3 linked regions of the Homo sapiens genome follow. The protein of the gene in region 1 interacts with the protein of each later gene in a biochemical or structural test. Each region holds a gene or a part of one and is shown in the gene's direction. Other genes may lie near its edges. The genes, in order: TRPM7, PLCB1 and PLCB2.

Region 1 (7,108 bases):
AAACGTTTTTTGAAATCTTGCATTTTAATATAAGATTAGCACTGGATCCTTCTTAAACATAAGGTAGGCCTTGTATAATTAAATAACTGTACCTTATTTTATATCTTGTTTAAATGCATGTGAAATTTTTCTCTTTTTATCATTATTATTTGAGGCTACAAAATAAAATTCTACATTATTTTTTCACATTTGTAAAAAAAGCTTATTTCTCTCCTACAGAGTGGAACAGATGTGCATTCAGATTAAAGAAGTTGGAGATCGTGTCAACTACATAAAAAGATCATTACAATCATTAGATTCTCAAATTGGCCATTTGCAAGATCTTTCAGCCCTGACGGTAGATACATTAAAAACACTCACTGCCCAGAAAGCGTCGGAAGCTAGCAAAGTTCATAATGAAATCACACGAGAACTGAGCATTTCCAAACACTTGGCTCAAAACCTTATTGATGATGGTCCTGTAAGACCTTCTGTATGGAAAAAGCATGGTGTTGTAAATACACTTAGCTCCTCTCTTCCTCAAGGTGATCTTGAAAGTAATAATCCTTTTCATTGTAATATTTTAATGAAAGATGACAAAGATCCCCAGTGTAATATATTTGGTCAAGACTTACCTGCAGTACCCCAGAGAAAAGAATTTAATTTTCCAGAGGCTGGTTCCTCTTCTGGTGCCTTATTCCCAAGTGCTGTTTCCCCTCCAGAACTGCGACAGAGACTACATGGGGTAGAACTCTTAAAAATATTTAATAAAAATCAAAAATTAGGCAGTTCATCTACTAGCATACCACATCTGTCATCCCCACCAACCAAATTTTTTGTTAGTACACCATCTCAGCCAAGTTGCAAAAGCCACTTGGAAACTGGAACCAAAGATCAAGAAACTGTTTGCTCTAAAGCTACAGAAGGAGATAATACAGAATTTGGAGCATTTGTAGGTAAGTTTGGCAAATTCGTATTTGTATATCAATATTATTTACTTTTCACCTTAGAAATAATAGAAATATGTACTGTTACAAGTCATTATCTTTTCATAGAGTATAATTATAAAATTTTTAAAAAGAATCAGACACCTGTGATTCTGGTACTTTGGGAGGCTGAGTGGGGAGGATTGCTTGAGCCCAGGAGTTGAGGACCAGCCTGAGCAACATAGCAAGACCCCATCTCTACAAAAAATTTTTGGAAGTAGCCAGGCGCAGTGGCATGTGCCTGAAGTCCCAGCTACTCAGGAGGCTGAGGCAGGCGAACTGCTTGCACCCAGAAGCTGAAAGCTGCAGTGGGCTGTGATCACACAACTGCACCATAGCCTGTGTGACAGAATGAGACCCTGTCTCTAGAAATGAAATGAAAAAAAAAAAAAAATCAGAAGTAGGGGAAATAGACTGAATTAGGCTATAAGAGTTATATTGGCACATAACCTCTTTGATGGAATTTTAGGTTCTGTCTTTTGAATTTGAATATCTTCAATTGGGTTTCATCAACTCTTGTTGAAAACCTAAGTGATTCTTAAGTACTTGGAGAACCTCATAGGGGAGGTTAGAATCAACTGGAAAAGAACAGTGCCCTATAAATAGATGACCATATAATTTTTTTACCCAAACCAAGACACTTTAAAAGTGAAAGGGTGCACTATTAATAATTATATCAGAACAACAATGGAAATCTAGGAATCTACTGGGAAAATTAGTACTTATGGTGTACCTATTTATATATTCACAGAGAACATTTCAAAAAGGAATGACTTATTCTTATACCTATGATAGCTTAAATAAGATAAGAACAAAAAAAAATGTTTATTTTGGCAGTAACACATTAAAGACCTTAGTGAAAACTTTCATGCATAGAGATTATTCAGACAGTATGTTAATAAGCCCATGGAAAATTGCCACATTAAGGCCAGCCTAGGAAGTTATCTAGGCACTAAACATGTTGATATTACTTCTAGGCTATATGGGATTCACTCTAGATACATAGATATAACTTTTCCTACGTTAAATATATTCCCCCTTTTTTTTTTTTTTTTAAAAGACGGAGTCTCCCTCTGTCGCCCAGGCGGGAGTGCAGTGGCACAATCTCGGCTCGCTGCAACCTCTGCCTCCCAGATTCAAGTGATTCTCCTGCCTCAGCCTCCTGAGTAGCTGAGATTACAGGCACACGCCACCACACCTGGCTAATTTCCAATTTATTTTTAAAAATGCATTTTAGCCTATTTGTTAATGTATTACCAGTGGGGTGTATGTATATATCATATATATTTTCTCTACATGTATATTATATAGGAAAAGTTACATATCTGTATATCTAGAGTGAATTCCATATAGCCTAGCAGTAAGTATCAGCATGTTCAGTGCCTGAATAACTTGCTAGACTGGTCTTAATGTGGAGATTATACATGGGCTTATTAACATGTTGTCTGAACAATCTCTATGTGTGGAACAGTTTTCATTAAGGTCATTAAAGTGTTATTGCCAAAATATTTTTGTTCTGTTTTTGTTTAAGTTATAGGCATAAGAATAAATCATTCCTTTTTGAGTGATTATCCGTATATATGTAATGCTTTTTTTTTTATTAATAGTAAAAATGCTTGGTCCCCTTTTTTCTTTTAAATTTCGAGCTATTTATTCATATCACATGTTGGTTTGTTTTATAAGGACTTTGGCTTTTAACGTTACTGTAAACTTAACTATAATCTTGGCCAGGTGCGGTGGCTCAGGCCTGTAATCCCAGCACTTTGGGAGGCCAAGACAGGCAGATCTTGAGTTCAGGAGTTCAAGACCAGCCTGGCTAACATGGTGAAACCCTGTCTCTACTAAAAATACAAAAATTAGTCAGGCATGGTGGCACGTGCCTGTAGTCCCAGCTACTCAGGAGGCTGAGGCAGGAGAATTGCTTGAACCCGGGAGGCAGAGGTTGAAGTGAGCCAAGGTCACACCACTGCACTCCAGCCTGGGCAACAGAACGAGACTTGTTCTCAAATTTAAAAAAACAAAAAACAAAAAAAACTGTAACCTTCACCAGCTTCTTGGCAATTTTCAATTTTATTTATCAAAAGAGCTAAAGGAGACTGCAGAGCCATCAAGTGTACTTGAAAAACAGCATAAACCTATTGTTTTTATAAACTTTAAGCAGTGCCATTATTTCGGTGAAGAAAAATAAAAATTTCTCATTGCAACATCTTTTTTTCTATTAAAGGACACAGAGATAGCATGGATTTACAGAGGTTTAAAGAAACATCAAACAAGATAAAAATACTATCCGTAAGTAAATCCTTATTAAAACACCCACAGTTCTATTTATTTTACTGTCTTGATGTTTAGTTCAAAATTTAATTAAACATTTTTTCAGCAAAAATACAGTTTTAGCAGATATCATTAACATGCTGATACCAAATATTTGAAGCTGTCCTCAGTTTGAAAAAATGAACAATTGAGGAACATGAAAAGGTACAAACAGCTTGCGTAATTATACTCACTAAATAAAAAACATCAGCTATTTAACATTTCTCTCTTTTTTTTTTTTTTTTTTTTTTGAGACGGAGTCTCGCTGTCACCTGGGCTGGAGTACAGTGGTGTGATCTCCGCTTACTGCAACCTCCACCTCCCGGGTTCAAGTGATTCTCCTGCCTCAGCCTCTTGAGTAGCTGGGATTACAGGTGCGCATCACCATGCCTGGCTAATTTCTGTATTTTTAGTAGAGATGAGGTTTTACCATGTTGTCCAGGCTGGCCTCAAATTCCTGACCTCAAGCGATCCGCCTGCCTCGGCTTCCCAAGGTGCTGGGATTATAGGCGTGAGCCACTGTGCCCGGCCTACATTTCTTTTTTAAAAATTTCTTCTCCCCATATGTTTTCCACTGATTAAATACTTAATGAGCTCACTCTTCCCAGATCCAAAAGTTTTATTTGAACATGACCCTGACTCTTAGAAACCTATTGTCTAGCAGTGAGAAGCTGTATATTATGTACAAGTGCAAGATAATTTGATAAATGTTTGTTAAATAAGTTTCAAAATATGTAGAACAGCTGGCAAAAAAGGTGTATTCTTGCCTGCAAAGTTGGTTTTATTTCTTAAATGTTGCTCTCATATATTACTTGTGGCTATTTAGAGCCTTTGGAGTGGTAATGTGGCTACAACAAGATAATTAAAAACACCTAGAAAGGTGTTAAGCTTCTCTAGCCCTTAAAGAACTTACATTATAGAAATGTTAAGTGACATACACAGTGAAAACAGGACCTTTCCTAAAGCTAGAACCAAGGAAATGATAATGACGTAGGAGTTTCTATGAATGATTACTTTTTATGTGATCCAGGTGAATTATGTAATTGCTGTCAGGCCATATTACTTACTACCCTACATATAAAAAGTAGACTCAAATGCATTTTTATATTGTAACATTTTGTATTTTTATTATCATATTTTGATTAAAGTATTGTACTAAATCAATTAACTTAATTTAATATCTATTAACTAGATATTGATAACTTGGTATTTAATTGGTTATTATATGCAAATTGAGGTGTAATGATTACCTGGGTTTTTTCCTTTCTGTATTTGCCTTTAAGTTTGAGAATAGTTGCATAATTTTCTTACCTCAAATAGGAGCAGCAGAATGATGTAAGAAATGTGATTATGGAGTATACAGAGATGCCTAAATATGAGGTAAAGTCTCTTTAGTATATGCAGAAGTCAGAAAGTCAGCTTAAAATATACCCATGTGCTTTTAGATGGAGGAAATAGGTGTAGGTTCAGCGGACCTATCATAAGACTATAATTTGCAGTGTTTTCTAACCATTTTAATTATGGCATATTTAGACTGAGAGCTAAATAAATGGATCAAGTTCACTTAGGTAGCCTTAGCTGACACACGATAAAAAGAGAAAGAAGAAAAGCGGGAATGAGAAAAAGTGCTAGAAAGAAGAAAGAACAGACTGCTGTCTACCAAATTGGTTTTATAATTATTGCCATATGACATATGGAATATCTGTATTCCATATAGGGTTGAAGTAGATTTTATAGGTAAATGAAATGTTTTATGGACTTTCATAAGTTTTAGTAAAGCTGTTTATAATGTAGAATTATTTAAACCTAAGTTCATCACATTTTCTTTTTCTTTACACAAATTATTGTCATATTGCCACACTCTGGTGGTATCATTTTGCTATTGCGAAGCACTTGATAGAAGTAAGACATAAAATTTAGGATAAATGGACATTTCTTAATGGGAAAAGGTAAAGCATCAGAGTTTTCCCACAGATTTCACCTTTTTAATAATGAACTTAAAGAAAAAACGTGCTGAAAATTTTTAAGTGGCAGGTACTCCTTGATAAAAACAAGACATTGCAAGTTTCTGTGAGTTAGCAGAAAAGCAGTAGCTGTGTTTTGATTTAAACAACTTTTTTTTTGAGATGGAGCAAGACTCCATCTCAAAAAAAAAAAAAAAAAAAGCAGTATTTATTGAGCCAGTAAAGCCTTCAGGGCTTTCCAAACACATAAATAATAGAAAAATATTAAGGGAAAATGTAGAGATTTAAGTACCTAAAAAACATAGTCAAAAGAAATTTGAAATACAAATTGAAATCTGACAAAATAGTGAGCATATAGATAACCTTGTTGTATAAATAGCTCATACAAAGCAATAAGAAAGTTACCAAGATCCCCAAAAGGAAATAGTTCCCCCACCATTAATGTTATCAGTGTGTCAAGATACATGTAAGATAATAGCTTCTTTGGGGGTGAGGTGAATTCATAATGATTGCGTTTTTTCTCCACAGTTTTGTATATTTTTCCAACTTTTTTGTGAGGTTTTTTGTTTTCTTTTGTTTTTGTTTTTTTCTTGAGACGGAGTCTCGTTCTGCCAGCAGGCTGGAGTGCAGTGGCTTGATCTTGGCTCACTGCACCCTACGCCTCCCGGGTTCAAGTGATTCTCCTGCCTCAGCCTCCTGAGTAGCTGGGACTACAGGCATGCGCCACCACAACCAGCTGATTTTGTATTTTTAGTAGAGATGGGGTTTCACCATGTTGGCCAAGATGGTCTCGATCTCTTGACATCATGATCCGCCCGCCTCGACCTCCCAAAGTGCTGGGATTACAGGTGTGAGTCACCATGCCCAGTCTGAGTTTTTATTATTATAAAAAATTCATTTGGATGGATTTATGAACAGTAGGAAAATAAGGTGTTTTGGTGCAGCTTTTGAAATTGGCATTGAAGAAAATAACCATAATCTATAATACACCCATTGGTGTCCAGGTAGAATAAAGCATATTGAGCTAAATAGATCAAGGGACTCTAATACTACTTAGAGTAATGGGTTGAAATTTAGTTCAATTATTTTCAAATTATATGTCTGCACAATATTTGCAGAATAACAATACTTCTGAAAACACTTTGAAACGAGTGAGTTCTCTTGCTGGATTTACTGACTGTCACAGAACTTCCATTCCTGTTCATTCAAAACAAGGTGAGTATTTTGACCATATGAATAGTGTCAGAAAACATACTCATTTACACTTTAAATGTATTTTATGTTTGTCAAACACATGAGCAGTGAATGGTGCAGGAGTCAGAAGACGAAAATTCTGATCTGCCATAGTGACTGTAACCTTGAATAAGTCGTAATCCTAGCATTCATTAGAATGTTTTATTAGAATATGTTTTACAAATTGTTTATTCTGTAAAGATGGAATAGAAAAACTTTTTGTAAATCTGCTGCTTTTAGCTTTTGCAAATGTATCTGTTCATCTGTATCATGTTTTAATCTGTATCATCACTTATTCAACATATTTTTCTAGTTTAACTTTTAAAAATCATACATTTTTGGTTCAAAATTAAAATACACACACTCTGAAAATTTTCTCTCTCACTCTGTTCCCACATTTACCACTATTTGTCTACCCTTTAGAGTTTCATGCTTATACAGTCATGTATGACAGTACAATCTTATACCTCTCATTTTTTACACAAAAGGTCACAGACAATACATGTTGCCTTGTACCATTAATTTCTCATTTACTATATTGTGGTGATGTTTCCATATCATAATTTTTTATAAGTCAAGATTATATATGCACATCGTTGAAAAGTTGAATAATTATAAAGGTTCCTTAAGAAAAAT
Region 2 (7,135 bases), on another chromosome or scaffold:
TCTACCATGGTAGTTAAGAGTCTAGGTTCTAAAGTCAGACTTCCTAGGTCTCCATCTCAATTCCGAATTTTGTAACTGGAGGAGGTTAATCCATCCTCCAAACTTTAGTATATAAATCAGTAAAATAGCATACAATAATATTATCTACCAGATCAGCTGAGAGTAACAATAAAGCTTAAATAATAAAGAGATTTATTATCTCACTCATTAAAAAGTCTAAAGAAAATTTAAAGGGTTTAAAAAGCTCATGAAGGACCAGGTTTCTTTGCATCTTTCTTGTCAGTGTCCTCTTTACATAACAATATGAGACAGAGAAAGAGAATTTCCCTGAAGACATTAGTCAGAACTGAGCCCCTCATATAGCTCTTAAACCAGTTACAGACAAAGGGGAATGGAATTATTGACATTAGTTTAGGCCAATCATAGTTTGTTCCTTGGAAAGAGAGAGGGGCCATGTTTCCTAAGCATGACGACCACCCAAATTAAGTCAGGGTTTGCTTACAAGAAAAAGAGGGTGGAGAGTGGTGTTGAATAGGAAGGGTTATGTTTTTTAGTGTCTGGGAAGTGCTTAGCTTAGTGCTCTGACCCACAGTGAGTGCTCAATAAAGGTTAGCTTTGCCAGCTCCCTGAGGCTGACATTCCCAGAGGGCAATTCTGTGCTCTCACAAAAAACAGACCTTCCTATTGTTTCAAAAAACAGTACACAGCACCGAACTTGACGGATCACAGGCCTGGCTCACACAATTTTGGATTTCTTACAGATCCCTTTGCATAGCAAAAATCTCCACACTTGGACACAGGAAGGGGAACATCACACACCGGGAACTGTTGTGGGGTGGGGGGACGGGGGAGGGATAGCATTAGGAGATATACCTAATGCTAAATGATGAGTTAATGGGTGCAGCACAACAACATGGCACGTGTATACATATGTAACTAACCTGAACGTTGTGCACACGTACCCTAAAACTTAAAGTATAATAATAATAATTTAAAAAAAAGAATGGGAAAAAAACAAAAAAACTCCACACTTTAGAAACATTTCTATCTTGTATACTGAACAAAAGGTGTGGAAAATGAGGGAGTTAAACCATGCTGCTTCAAGCATCATGCTACATGTTGAAGGTATTTATCCTGTAGTTCTCCTTTAACAAACTGCGTCATTTTGCTGGCTGAAGAAACTCTTGCAGCCCATGTTTGTCTTGAAGACAAATCCTGTTCAGATTTCTACAGCGTTCTCTCCTTTTTACGTCCACGTTCACAGCAACAGCTGGGAGGAATCAGGGATGCTAGATGAAATACTCAACTATCCATTGCCAATAATGGTGGTTACCAAATGACTCCCAACTCAGTGCCATTCAACAATGAACGTTTATTGTCATGTTCATGAGTCTGCAGGTTGGCTGAGTCTGGGAGATCTAGGATGGTTTCTACTGGACTTGCTTCCAAGCTGTAAATGGGGCTTAGGTCTGTCCTGATTGTCTCCTTAGATCAGAGGCTCCCTGAGGCATGTTTATCTCATGGAAATGATAAGAAACCCAAGAGGGAAAGCCCAACCTCAAAGCATATTTTGAGCCTTTGCTAATATCACATCTTCAAACATGCCATTGGCCAAAGCAAGTCACATTGTCCAACATCAATGGGATGGATAAATAAACAGGGTGTCTAGTAAAAACTGTAAGGTCACAAAGAAAAATGTGTGGACGCAGAAAGGAGCAGGGAGCAGAGAGCTATGATGCAATAAACTACCACAGGAGGCTCAATCTACTTCTTATTTTGCTTAGAGCTCATTGTAACTCTCCAATCTCCTCTTCTAGTGAGCGCAGCCCTGTCTTGCCTTCCTAAGCCACTGTGACAGGTAAAAACTATTTGGCCAATAATCTTTCCAGTAAATAACAAAGAGATAGAAGGAGAAAAGGAAAAGAAAGGAAAGGAAAGGAGGAAAGGAAAGGAAAGGAAAGGAAAGGAAAACAATTTGGTATGATCAGTTGTAAGGACAATTGAGAAGTTCTGGAGCCCTGGAAGCAGAGTTTCATTGCAGTACTCTGAAGTAGAGAAAATCGACTTGAGACGGTGACTGATACCTTCTGTGAGGTAATTAGCAAGCCAAGGCTGCTGGCTAGAGGGACTGTGGACCATTCAGGTTTTAGTTTAGGGACATGTGATCAAAATGAAACCAGTCAGTTTTTCATGAAATTCTTTGTAGCAATTGGCTTCCAAGCACAAGGCAAGACCCTCAAATGACAGCAAGAGTCATGGGTCTTGTTCACCAGGTTATCCATGGTGATTACAATAGTGGCTAGTATACAGCTGGCTACCAATAAGTATATTTTAAATGCATTGAAATATTTAATAGCAAATTTCTGTATTGGATTTTGGTAATCTTTTGACTGAGTTCATAAGCATTGGGCCTTGGAGTCCTGAGGGCAGAGAACAGGGAGAATGAAGGATTAAGAGAATGTAGTGTTTCTCTCCATTTTTCTCTCTTCGTATTCTTTCTTCTTTTTAAAAATCAACCTTTTTGAGATATAATTTATTTAAAACAAACTGCACTCAATTTAGGCGTACTTACAGAACTTACAAGTTTTGATAAACACACACACGATATAGAACATTTCCGACATGCTCATCAGGTGCTCGTAGCCCTTCCCTGTCCATCTCTACCTATCCCTGGCCACAGGCAAGCTTTCTGTCAACATAGAATATCTTGCCTATTCTGCAATTCCTACACATGGAATCAGGCAGCATACAGTCTATCGTGTCCGGCTTCTTTTACAAAGCTTAAAGTCGCGATTCATCCCTGATCTTGCATGCCCACTCATTTTTATTGTGGAATAGTATTCCAATATTTGGGCATACCACAGTTTGTTTATCCATTCACCTGTTGATTGACATTTGCAGGCTACTAAGAAGAAAGTTCTTCACATCACTTTACAAGTCCCTGCAGACTTGAACGTTTTCATTTCTTTTGGACAAATACTTAGGAGTGGAATTTCTAGGTTGTATGATAAGTAAATATCTTACTTTATAAGAAACTATTCTCCAAAGTGGTTTTACTATTTTATATTCCCTCCAGCAATGAACAAGAGTTCCAAGCTATTTCTCTCTCCGCCCCCCCACCTCCCGCGTGTGTCTCTCTCTCTCTCTCTTTCTCTCTCTCACACTCACTCACTCTCTCTCTCCCTCTCCTCTCTCTCCTTAATAAAAAAAAAAAAAGAGTTCCAGTTGCTCCACATCCTTTCAAGCATTTGGTATTACCAGTCTTTAAAATTTTATCCATTCTGGTCCTCCTCTTTCCCTTCTTCCCTCCCTCCCTCCCTTTCTTTCTTGAATTGAGAAATGTTTGTGGAAGGAGTGAAGACAAACATTCCTGGACCTATGTTCCTAAATGAGCAAGTTTCTATTAATAAGACTCTCCCCCACCCGCCACACATCCTACACACTCAAGGAGAGGAGCGGGAGAGGGCACCCTCTTTCTTCCTCGGAAAATAAAACCTTTGCTTTCTTTAGGATGGGCTTTCTGTCTCGAAAGCACAACGTAACCGTTTGCCCGGGTTTCAAGATCAGCGCGCTGCAAACTCTCAGGCGCGGCCAGGTTTCCTCAAAGAGCCTCTCAACTGCGCTCTTCTCTGCTGATAAATGATAATTCTCTTCAAAAAGCTGGTTTGTGGCTGGCGCTGGAGAGCTCCAGCTAGAGCCAAAAGCCAGGGGTTGCCTCTTTGGTTCCTCCCGATGGGCCCCTTTTCCCAGCCAGTTGGGATCCAAAGACGCTCCGGAGCTCGAGCCCAAATTCCCAAGAAAACCCCAAAGAGCGTAAGGCTCCTGGGGACCCCTAGCACCTCTGCAACCAGGGCACGGGGCATGCTCAGAGCGAATGCGGGAGGCAGGCGTTGGCTGCAATGGGGCTCGGGAGCCAGGAGGTGCCGCTGCGTCCCCGCTTCCTGGCGCCTGACCCAGCGTGCAAAGTTGGGCTGGGAGCCGCGGGGGGAAGGAAGGACCCAGCGAGCGAGGGTGGCGGGGAAGGGGGGCGGGGGGGAGGAGGAGGGAGGAGGGAAAAGAGCGGTTAGGGGGGGCGCCGGGCGTGTGTCACTCGCTCTCTCCCTCTGTGTATAGAGGATGTGCTGAATGGTGCGCTTTGAGGCGGCGGCGGCGGAGGAGCAGAATCCGCCGCGACTGGCAGCCTCGGCTGACCGGCTCGGCTTCTCTTCGCCTTCCGAGGCTCCTCATCCACCGCGGGCTCCAGACCTCGCGTCCCGCCCGGGGCATGGCCGGGCGCTGCGCCCCCGCGCGCTCTGCCTGCTGAGCGGCGCCGGAGGGAGGTGCGGAGGCCGGGAGGCCGGGGAGGCCGGCGGGGAGCAGAGTCGAGCGCCTCCGGAGCAGAGAAAGGAGCCCGCGCCCCGCGCCCCGCGCCCCGCGCACGGTCCCCAGTCCCTGCCGCGCTCGCCCGGGCCGCCCGGAGCCCAGATGAGCCCAGATGGCCGGGGCTCAACCCGGAGTGCACGCCTTGCAACTCAAGCCCGTGTGCGTGTCCGACAGCCTCAAGAAGGGCACCAAATTCGTCAAGTGGGATGATGTAAGTATTGGGGCGGCCCGAGTCGGGGCGCTGGCTCGGGCACCGGGCAGGGCGGGCGTCGTGGGGGTGGGGCAAGGGGCGCGTTATGCAATGGGCGCACTGGGAGCGGGCAGGGGCAGCCTCGGGCGCACAGGTTGGCATCTGCCAAAGCGGATGTCCAAGGGCAGAAGCTTTGCGCGCGCTCCTGTTTCATCGGGCTTCAGTAGTTGCCATCCTTTCTGGGTCTGGCAGGCGCCCCCTGAGGGTCTTACATCTTTTGGGCCAGTGGAGAGGGAGGGGCAAGCTTTGCCTGGTGACAGGTCCTGAGAGTTCGGAAAGTAGGGAGTGTGAAGTTGGGACCAACTGGAAAGCGCCTGGTGTGAACAAATCGCGTCCCTCTCCGCCTGCGGACGCACCCCCTATTACCTCTTTTGCCCGATTTCAAGAAGGAAGGACCTGAAGTTCAAAACACTTTAGTGATTGCGAACCCTCTTGGCGCTTTTGTGGGAGCCAAGGCGGCGGAGGACACAACGGTCCAGCCAACAGGTGGTCGTTGATGCCAAACTTCAGCGCCTGGCTCCGGAGTGAGGGTCCCTGAAAAGGGCTGCGGGGACACATCTGGGGAGGGCGTGAACAGAATGGGGGCCCTTGAGGGGTCCTGGAGGGCTCATGGGCCTGCAGGCAAGTGGGGAGGGCTGACTTTTGAGAACTGAGCTGATTGGAGTCTTCTGCCTGAAATAGACAGGTTGAGAGTTTGCCCCACGATTTACCTGCACCGTTTGCCAGGTAGGGCAGAGCCTAGCCCAGCGCCGGGGTCTCTAATGCTTTACGAGCGGCCCAGACCCCAGGACTTCAAATGACTTCCCCTTCCCCTCTACCCCAGTTGTCTTCAAAACACGTAAATTAGTTATCCAGCTGAAAACATGCGAATCTTCGGATGGAGAACATTATGGTATCAGTTTTATGTCCTGGGTGTCATTCTAAAGGTTCGATAAGAAAAACCTACTGAAATAAACCCGAGTTGCCAGGCTCTAAGCAAATTTAAGTCCAAATGACTAATACATCTCTTAATCAGAAGGAATTATAGGAGAATGAGGCGTTCTTCTTGCCGAAAAGATTTTCCACCTAGTAAATTATAGCCTGTTATCCTCTAGGGTATTTTTCTTTAATCTTCTTAAGCCATTTTCCAGTGTCTGAAAACAATTTAAATATTCCAGGTAGTGAATCCAATTACTTAGCTGAGTGCGTCTGTGTCTATATTTTGTCCAGCTGGAAGCGCAAACGGAACTTGGAGTATGAACCACAGCTTCCTTGAAAGCTCGTGCCAATTATTAAATGCTGTAGGCAAGGATGTAAACATACATCTTTTTACCATGGGCTTCACACTTTTCTTCTTTCTGTTCCAGTCTAATTGTACTGAATGTTTCTGTAAATGGAATAGAATCTAAACAATAAATTCAGACGCAGATTAAATGCTTTGTGTCAGGGAAAAAAAAGACAAAGAAAATGCAGTTCAGCAATAAACAAGACGGTCTTGCCCATTTTGAGATCCTTGAATAGAGAGGTGATGTGATGATGGATTTACTGAGAAAGAGAGTGAAGGGCAGAGGAAAGAGAAAGAGACTTTGCAGAATTTAGAAAAGGGAGTTTCAGCGTAAGCTCTGGATTTGTATACAGTGATGATTCTAAACTGTATTTTAAATAATTCTCTATAATTTCTTGTTTGGGAGAGAATAGCCAACATCACATTGAGAATGAAAGTATTCTATGAAAACACATTTTGGTATATCCAGGTAGATGACTTTCATTATGTGCATTTCTGTAACACATATTTCTTGCTCACCTATTACTGCCAATCCTAGACTGGATTCTGGGGTGGTGAAAAAAGTAGACAAAATCCCTGCTGTTACGGACCTTACATGCTAGGTGGAGGAGACAAAAATCATCAAAAACACCAATGAGAGAGAGATTGGGTGATGCATTGAGGGTAATAGAGAGGACGTTAGTGAAATACCAACCAAAGAAGAAGTTGAAAAGAGCTCCTTCTGAGCATTGCAGCAGTGAGTTTCCAAGGAAGCCCTCCTGAAAGAAAGGACATAGTCACTAAGGAGAAGACCAGAAGAATTTCAGGTCTTTTTTAAAAAAAAAAAAAAAACCTAGACTGCACTCAGGAGTCAAGTTATCTGGAATATAATGAGCTATCTTGCAGGCTCTTTGGTTCTCTGGGTCTTCATGCTGATCAGTGGACTACAAGGGACCCAGCCTTTCTTAAGGTTGCCTTTCTCTTCCCCAGGCATCCCTTTTCTACTCTTCTCAGCTCGTATTTGCCCTTCCAGAATCAAGCCAGTTCAAGTTATCTGGCTATTTATATTGTACCTTAGTGAGACAGTGTGTTGAAGACAAAAAAGAACCAGATCTTGAATCAAAGGCCTGAGTTTACCTCCTAGTTCTTTCACCAGTAAGCTGCATGACTTTAGGCAAATCACTTAGCTTCTCTGTATTTTTGCTGCTTCTTGTGTAAAAGCGTGGTAATGTTACAGGACATTCAAAAATGATGAATTTGGGGCTGTTTAGGATGTGAAG
Region 3 (7,417 bases), about 10 Mb from region 1:
AAAAAAAAAAAAAGGTTGGACCAGGACAGGAGTAAGAACAGAAGCAATTGATCAATACTGATGACCTTCCCTATATGCAATGCACCGTGCCCACCTAGAGGAGGACATCATATAATTTATTTCTATCACACTTATTAAAACTGGCCCATTTCACAGAGGGATTGACAGAGGCAGAGGAGTGATTGTGCCCAAGAATGTCACACTGGGATGAGAGCTAAGCCTCTCCTGCCACCTACAGCTCTCATCTCTAGGTTTGTTGTCTCTCAGAGGAAAGGCAAGAGAGAAAAGTGACAAGATTGGCCCTTCCAAGTGGAAAGAGATTTTTAGAGCTGGAAGGATTCTTAGAAATGATCAAAAGTTTGACAGATTCAAGGGCTCAGGTAACTTGCTAAGATCACAGAACAAACCTTTGCTCCAGTGGGGACTAAACTCTGGGTTTCTTGAAGATGGACACAGGTAAATTTGATCCAAAATAGCACTTCAAAGAGAAACATACATGGACTGATTGTTTTCCACTTTTTTTTTTTTGAGATGGAGTCTCGTTCTGTCACCCAGGCTGGAGGCAATGGTGTGAACTTGGCTCACTGCAACCTCTGCCTCCCAGTTCCAGCTATTCTCCTGCCTTAGCCACCTGAGTAATTGGGATTACAGGTGTGTGCCACCATGTCTGGCTCATTTTTGTATTTTTGGTAGAGACGGGGTTTCACCATGATGGTCAGGCTGATCTTGAGCTCCTGACTTCGTGACCCACCCGCCTCGGCCTCCCAAAGTGCTGGGATTACAGGCGTGAGCCACCATGCCCAGTTTGTTTTCCACTTCTAAGTCCCAGATGGTTCCTTGTCGGGTTATAGAGGGGCTTGGAATGGGAAGACAAGCAACATCTTCCTCCTGGGCATCTACAGGAAACTTGATTGCCTCTCTCCTCCCTAAGGGATCAGTGTTGGCTACCCAGCCTTGCCCATGCCTCCACTTCTGCTTAGCTCTCAGTACACAGAGGGTGGCTGAAGCTGGGGCCACAGAGGGACACACAGCTGGGCAGCTCAGCACTCTCATCTGTGCCTCATCAGCTGGGGGGCTGTGGTGGCATGAAGCTGGTGGGAGGCTGGCACTTGCCCATGATTGGAGCCCTTGTGCTCATCACTTCATGAGTTCAGGCCGCTTGGGAACAGCTTGCTTCAAGTCCACAGACAGGAGCAACCCTAACTCAGTCTGCCCTGCAAAGGTGGGTACAGCCCCTGATCCACACGAACTGCTGGAAGAAAAATCCAAAGAGAAAGTCAGTGAAGACGTTTGTAGAAAGAACTGTTGAAGAAGGAATAAGAAACTGCCATTTTTCCTGTCAGTGTCTGCTAATAAGTAATAATAAAATAACAATGATAACTCATAATGATAATGATAGTATTATTGAGCTCATGTGTAGGCACTGTATTAAGTACCATTCATTATATTCTTTAATCCTTGCAACATCCCCATGAGGCATTATTATCCCCATTTTACAGGTGAGAAGGCTGAGGCCCAAGAAGGTTAAGTATCACAAGATAAACCAGCTAGTAAGTGGCTGGGTTCCTAGAGTGGTGAGTGTGGCTCCCTTTGCCAGACTGGGAAACAGACACCATAAGAGCCATCTTCCCTCCAAAAGAGGGCCAGCCCTTGACCAAGATGGACAACAGGGTTCCACACTCCTGAAACCCACTGCTTCAACCATCATGGCATCAGATAAGAAACCGACCTAGTCTGATCCTCTTATTTGGCTGGCAGCTGTGGCACCTGAAGGTCTGAGTTCAACTTCTGCCATTAAACTTCTCTGATGAGCAAACTGGGAAACCAATGCATGGGGCTCCCACATAGCACTGGCAAGTGAACAAATGAACTTGGGACATATGTGCTGGGGTCCAGGTCACAAGCATGTCCCTTGTGGGAGGCAACATTTGGTTGAATATAAGTTCTTACCACATTCTATGGCCCAAGGCTCCCACTTGCCAAACTCTCTGGCATAGGTGTTCCCGTGGGTCACAAATGACAGACCCAACCGCAACTTCCAGGACATGCATGCTTTGAGTGCACCCAGCAGGGGGCATCCTTGCCCTTCCACTGCCCACCCTGGAGGGGTGAGACTGGCCCACTGCAGGGTTGCCCTCTACCCAGCTCAGCCCAGGAGCCCAAGGCCACATTTCCCAAACGGGGCATTCATGTAACTACCCTGATTTTCTCTACTATTATTTACATAACATTTTTCTTTGTCAACACAAATTTTCAAACCTAAATGTATTTTTAAAAGCAAAAAGCTCTTTGATGAAGATTTTCCGCTCTCCTGACTGCCTGGATTTTCTGCATTTTTGGAGCTAGCTTTGCAGGAGGTCAGGATGTGAGCAGGAGAGTACAGGCCCCCACTGAAGCTACAGTTGTGGTCCCAAGAACAGTGCAGGCAGTGACATCACTGAGTAAAGATGGGCAAGGCTTTGTTCTGTGGATTCGGAGCTGGAGATGGAAAGGAACAGAGTGAGGAGCCCTGAAATCCTGAAATGAGGAGAGGAGGCTGTCCCTTTCCTCCTCAGGCTGAGGGGGAGGAATGGACTGGTCTCTCCAGGCCCAAAGTGGAGAGGGGGCTGATGGCTACAGGACAGATGAAAGGGAGGGACTTGGGTGCCGGGACCAGGGCAGCCGCAGGTGACAGGTGCAGGGGCTTTGGGAAGGGACAGGGATTTCCCTTGCAAAATCCATTCAAACAGATATCGAGGGAACCTGATCCCAGGGAGGAACCCAGAACAGCATGGGCTGCCAGAGGGGCCCCCAGAAGGGCCCCAGACTGGAGGGAGGGAGAGAGGAGAGATGACGCTAAGGGACTGGGGGAAACGAGGAAGAAGAGTCCTCTGAATTGTTACCATTTCCAGAGGCTTGGTCAGGCCCTGCTCCGGCTCCATCCCCCGGCCCTAGAATTGCTCTTCTGCAGATTATTTCTGTGCTGGGAATTCCCTTAGCTCCAGCCTCCACTGGGCAGTTTATTATCTTAATTCCGCATGAAGAGTGTCCTCCCTCACCCTCCACCCTGCCCTGGACCAGACCTCCAGCCGCGACAATTCTAGGGCCTGGGTGAGGGTCTTACCGTTGTTGGGGGTATGCAAAGCCCCATGGGGGGGTGACCCAGGGCAAAAGGCCAGGCCCCAGAGGGGAAGGAAGTCTTGGGTAGAGCTCCCTGCCTCCCAGGCTGGGCTAAGAAGGGCGATAAGAGGAGCAGATTAGGCAAGAGGAAGTGGGCTGGGCTGAGCTGGACTGGTGCTGAACTCCCTGGGCCTGGGGCAGAGTGTGGGTCAGGCACCTGAGCAGCTGGGGCTGAGCCTGGCCAACCAGAGCAGCCATCCCTCCGCCCCAGCCCCGCTGCAGGCTGGGGTACACAGCAGAGGCGGGCACACGGAGGAGAGAGGAGAGCGCAGTGGAGGCAGGGGCTAGGGCTGCTCAGTGGGGGTCCAGGCCTCAGGCAGTCCCAGAGGCCCAGAGGTGGGAGTCTGGTGAGGTGGGTGAGGGGAGTGATTGCCTTGCCTCATGTGCCCCTCATTTTCTTTCTTTTTTTATTTTTTTCGAGATGGAGTCTTGCTCTGTCGCCCAGGCTGGAGTGCAGTGGCGCCATCTCGGCTCATTGCAAGCTCCGCCTCCTGGGTTCATGCCATTCTCCTGCCTCAGCCTCCCGAGTAGCTGGGACTACAGGCGCCGCTGCCACGCCCAGCTAATTTTTTGCATTTTTAGTAGAGACAGGGTTTCACCGTGTTAGCCAGGATGGTCTCGATCTCCTGACCTCGTGATCCGCCCGCCTCGGCCTCCCAAAGTGCTAGGATTACAGGCGTGAGCCACCGCACCCGCCCGCCCGGCAGGTGCACCTCATTTTCATGGGGGAGGAAGCATTGAGAAAGAGGAGCCGTGTGTTCAGCAAACTTTGCTTATTCAAAACACTCCATTCCAGCTGGGCCCTGTCCCCACCCCACCCCTGCCTCTACGGTGCTCCCAACCTTTGGGGTCAGATGCCCATGCTCTGGACCCTTCCCCTGAGGAGGTCCTTTCTCCTAGTGAGCTCCCTGTGCCTTCCCTCAGTCCAGGCCTGGGCAGCAGTCTCCCCAGCTGGTCTCCATGTCGTCCTTCTCCAGCCCTCCTGGGCCAAATCTGACCAGAGACCACCACAGGGACTGAGAGGCCCTGGCTCCAAGGCGACCCGGCCTCATGACCACGTCTCCGCTGTGAGCAGCGCAGAGAAGGAAGCCCAGAGCAGGAAGTGCTGAGAGGCACAGGGTGGGGCTGGGGGTGGGGGCGGGGGCCTCCAGAAGAGGCGGGGGCTTCCTGCTTCAGCCTCCTTGGGCAGAAGCAGTGACCACAGGCCCCCATGGCAGGCAGGGCGGGTGGGAGGAGGGTGATTTACAAGGCAGATGGGCCTCTGGCTACAGCTCAGTCCTGCACTCAGCCAGGGCCACCCCAGGGGCTATAAGAGCAACTAGATTTCTGGAGCAGCTCGGGGATGGGTGCCATTTGAGCCCAGCTTGGCTCCCCCTCCTGGCTGGCCTCCTTCCTGCCCTTCTGCCTGCCTGTGTCTGCTGAGATTCTGCAAAGAGGAACGCTTGGCACCATGTCTCTGCTCAACCCTGTCCTGCTGCCCCCCAAGGTGAAGGCCTATCTGAGCCAAGGGGAGCGCTTCATCAAATGGGATGATGTAAGTGGGGCAGGGGCCTCAGCTGCTGGAGCACCAGGTGGTGGGGGCCGGGCTGCTACGGGGCTTTGCTTGGGTGGGAGGATTGGTTTATGTCTCCTAGGATCCAGGCGCCTGTGTGGTTTGGCCAGGCAGCTGACACCACTGCTTGGATAAACAAACCTGGGATTAAGGGTGTATGTCCCCAGCTAAAGGGCTAAGCCTTGGTTCTAGGTGTGAGAAGTGGGTGAGCTGCCTGGGTGGTCACTGGAGGTAGTTTATTTGGGTCTGCTTCTCTTCTCCTTCAAACCCCCAAGAGAAGAGGAGGAAAGTGCACCCCAGAGCTGAGGCAGGCTAGGAGGAGAGGTGAGCTCGTCCCCGCTCCCAGCACAGATGTCTTGCCCTTGCTCCGGCAGGGCGCTCAGACCCAGCTCCTTCACCCCCTCCACTGGGCATCATCCTGTCCAGGGAAGCCTTGCTCTCCCCTGCGCTGCTGTGGGGGCAGCCACAAAAGGCCCCTGGACCTAAGTGAGAACTAGAGGCTTCTGCTCCCAGGGAAGGAGCTGATTTGACTTCTGCTACCCCTTGCTGGGCTCAGCATTGCTCCCCGATGCAGGCCTGTCAGCAAGGGAAGGGGAAGACACTGCTGCACCCTGCAGCCCTCTCTCTGCTGTGTCTGTTCCTTCCTACACGGGGCTGCTCCCAGGCTCTGGTTCTCCTGGCCCCTGAAAATGTTACCTTAGGCCAGGGATTCTCTTAGGCTGGAGAGAACAATATGGAGATTCTCCTTCAGGGAGGGGAGGCTGCTGGGCTCGCCCAGTCTGAGAGTTAGAGTGCTGGGCTTGTCCCAGGAAGGGAAATGAAGGCTTGGTGGGGGAGGGAAGACAGCCCTTAGTGCTGACTTGTCCACCTGATGGGAGGTGGGATGAGGGGGTCTGGGTCTAGGCCCTTCGGGGCTGGGCTAGGCTAGGGGATCTCGCTGCCCATGACTATGGGTTGGGGCCCTGTGGTGAGATGCTTCCTGCTTCCCTAGGAGTGATGTGGGGTTGGTGTAGCATGGCAGTGGCATGGAGGTGACATGCCCCAGGAGCCTGTGGAATGAGGGAAGTGGCTCAGAATGAAAAGCGAAGTGGCCTCTCTCAGTTCCTCTGGGCAGTGTGTGTAACCTGACTGGGCAGAGGGTCACAGGGTGGCAGTGGAGGTCGGGGGTTGGTGGCCAGCGGAGACTGTCCTTCTTCCTAAGCTGGCACCTGTGTACCTGGCTGTTCCCTTCCCCTCTCCAAGGTAGGGCATTGGATGTTCTCTGGATCCTGACCTGCACAAGCAAGAATGTCCCAAGCCTATCCACAGGTCCATGCTGCTGTGAGACAGGGCTCTGCTTTCAGGCTGCTTTTGGCACAGTTAGTGGATGGCATGGGTGTGCTGTGCCATGTTGAATAAGCAGAATACATAGGATGTAAGCAAATCCCAACTTTATTTCATCTCCCATGGCCTCTTTACAATATATTTGGTAGGAGAAGCTCTCCCCCTGGCCATGGAAAGAAACTCTGCAAGGCCACAAGACATTATATTTACTCTCAGGTAACACAGTCCAGTGGTCACTTTTCATCACAAAATCCAGTCCGATGTCAGAAACTGGCTATAATCAAAACTCCAACCTTTATTTACACTGACATCTTCTACCCTTCTCCTTCTAGGAATGGTTTCAGGTAGGCTGCAGGCCCCCTGGAAAGGGCCTTGGTGGGATTCCCTGCTGGTCCTGCTCAAGGCCCCTCTAGGCATGAGCTATAGGGAGGGAGGTGGGAAAGGGGTAACCAAGTTCTATTTAAACAGGTGCTGTCATAAATTGGCTCATGCTTTCTGAGCCTGGCAGAAGCTTAAAGCTGATTCTTTCTCTGGAGGACATTTTTGAGGATTCTTGGGAGACCCACCCCTTCGAATGGGAACCTGTTGCTTGAAGTCCCCCCAGCATTTCTATTTTAGGGGTCACTCACAACTATGTCTTCAGCCCCTTCTTACCACCTTCAGCTTCCTGTGGCTTTAGGCCCTTTGCCCCCACTCTCCCATGGGCCCACCCTGGACCCCAGCAAATACCCATGCATCCATTGTCCCAAGGGTGCAGGCTTGTCCAACAGGCCAGCACCCCCTGCTCTGCCTCACACAGTTAGCTCGCTGTAGTCCACTTGGTCTCCTGGGCAGGAGTCCGACCTCTGTCTGTTATGCCTACAACTTCAAGGATCACAGGGGCCTGTTGTGGGGTGGGGGGAAAGGGGAGGGAGAGCATTAGGACAAATACCTAATGCATGCGAGGCTTAAAACCTAGATGACAGGTTGACAGGTGCAGCAAACCACCATGGCACATGTATACTATGTAACAAACCCACACATTCTGCACATGTATCCCAGAACTTAAGGTAAAAAAAAAAAAAAAAAAAAAGAGATCACAAAAGCTCTCTAAGTAGAGTTGAAACCCCTCACTAGGCTTAAGGTGGGGGATCAGGCACTCCAACTCTCCCTTGGGGAGGTAAGGGAATGGAGCTCCCAACACAGCTTTCTTAAAATTGGCTTCTCCACAAAAATTTTCCCTTTTCCCTGTACTCTAACCACCTCTGATCTGAGAACATTTTTTGGATCATTCACCTTGTAAATGCTGCATTTGGTCTGTTTTAGTATACGGCAACTATTGTGCCTTGCTGGAAACCTTAATTTTAATATCTTGTTATGTACACATACAAAGACCGTTAAACT

What was found.
Region 2: the proteins of TRPM7 (region 1) and PLCB1 form a complex in vitro, tested with the Homo sapiens proteins (one study listed by BioGRID).
Region 3: the proteins of TRPM7 (region 1) and PLCB2 form a complex in vitro, tested with the Homo sapiens proteins (one study listed by BioGRID).

Annotation. Positions count from the first base shown.
Region 1 is NC_000015.10:50,585,738-50,592,845, reverse strand, and holds part of TRPM7 (transient receptor potential cation channel subfamily M member 7), read left to right. Parts: intron 1-219; coding exon 220-935; intron 936-3,189; coding exon 3,190-3,254; intron 3,255-6,357; coding exon 6,358-6,454; intron 6,455-7,108. UniProt on the Homo sapiens protein: Bifunctional protein that combines an ion channel with an intrinsic kinase domain, enabling it to modulate cellular functions either by conducting ions through the pore or by phosphorylating downstream proteins via its kinase domain.
Region 2 is NC_000020.11:8,128,178-8,135,312, forward strand, and holds the start of PLCB1 (1-phosphatidylinositol 4,5-bisphosphate phosphodiesterase beta-1), read left to right. Parts: upstream 1-4,088; 5' UTR 4,089-4,474; coding exon 4,475-4,573; intron 4,574-7,135.
Region 3 is NC_000015.10:40,304,865-40,312,281, reverse strand, and holds the start of PLCB2 (1-phosphatidylinositol 4,5-bisphosphate phosphodiesterase beta-2), read left to right. Parts: upstream 1-4,346; 5' UTR 4,347-4,609; coding exon 4,610-4,693; intron 4,694-7,417. UniProt on the Homo sapiens protein: The production of the second messenger molecules diacylglycerol (DAG) and inositol 1,4,5-trisphosphate (IP3) is mediated by activated phosphatidylinositol-specific phospholipase C enzymes.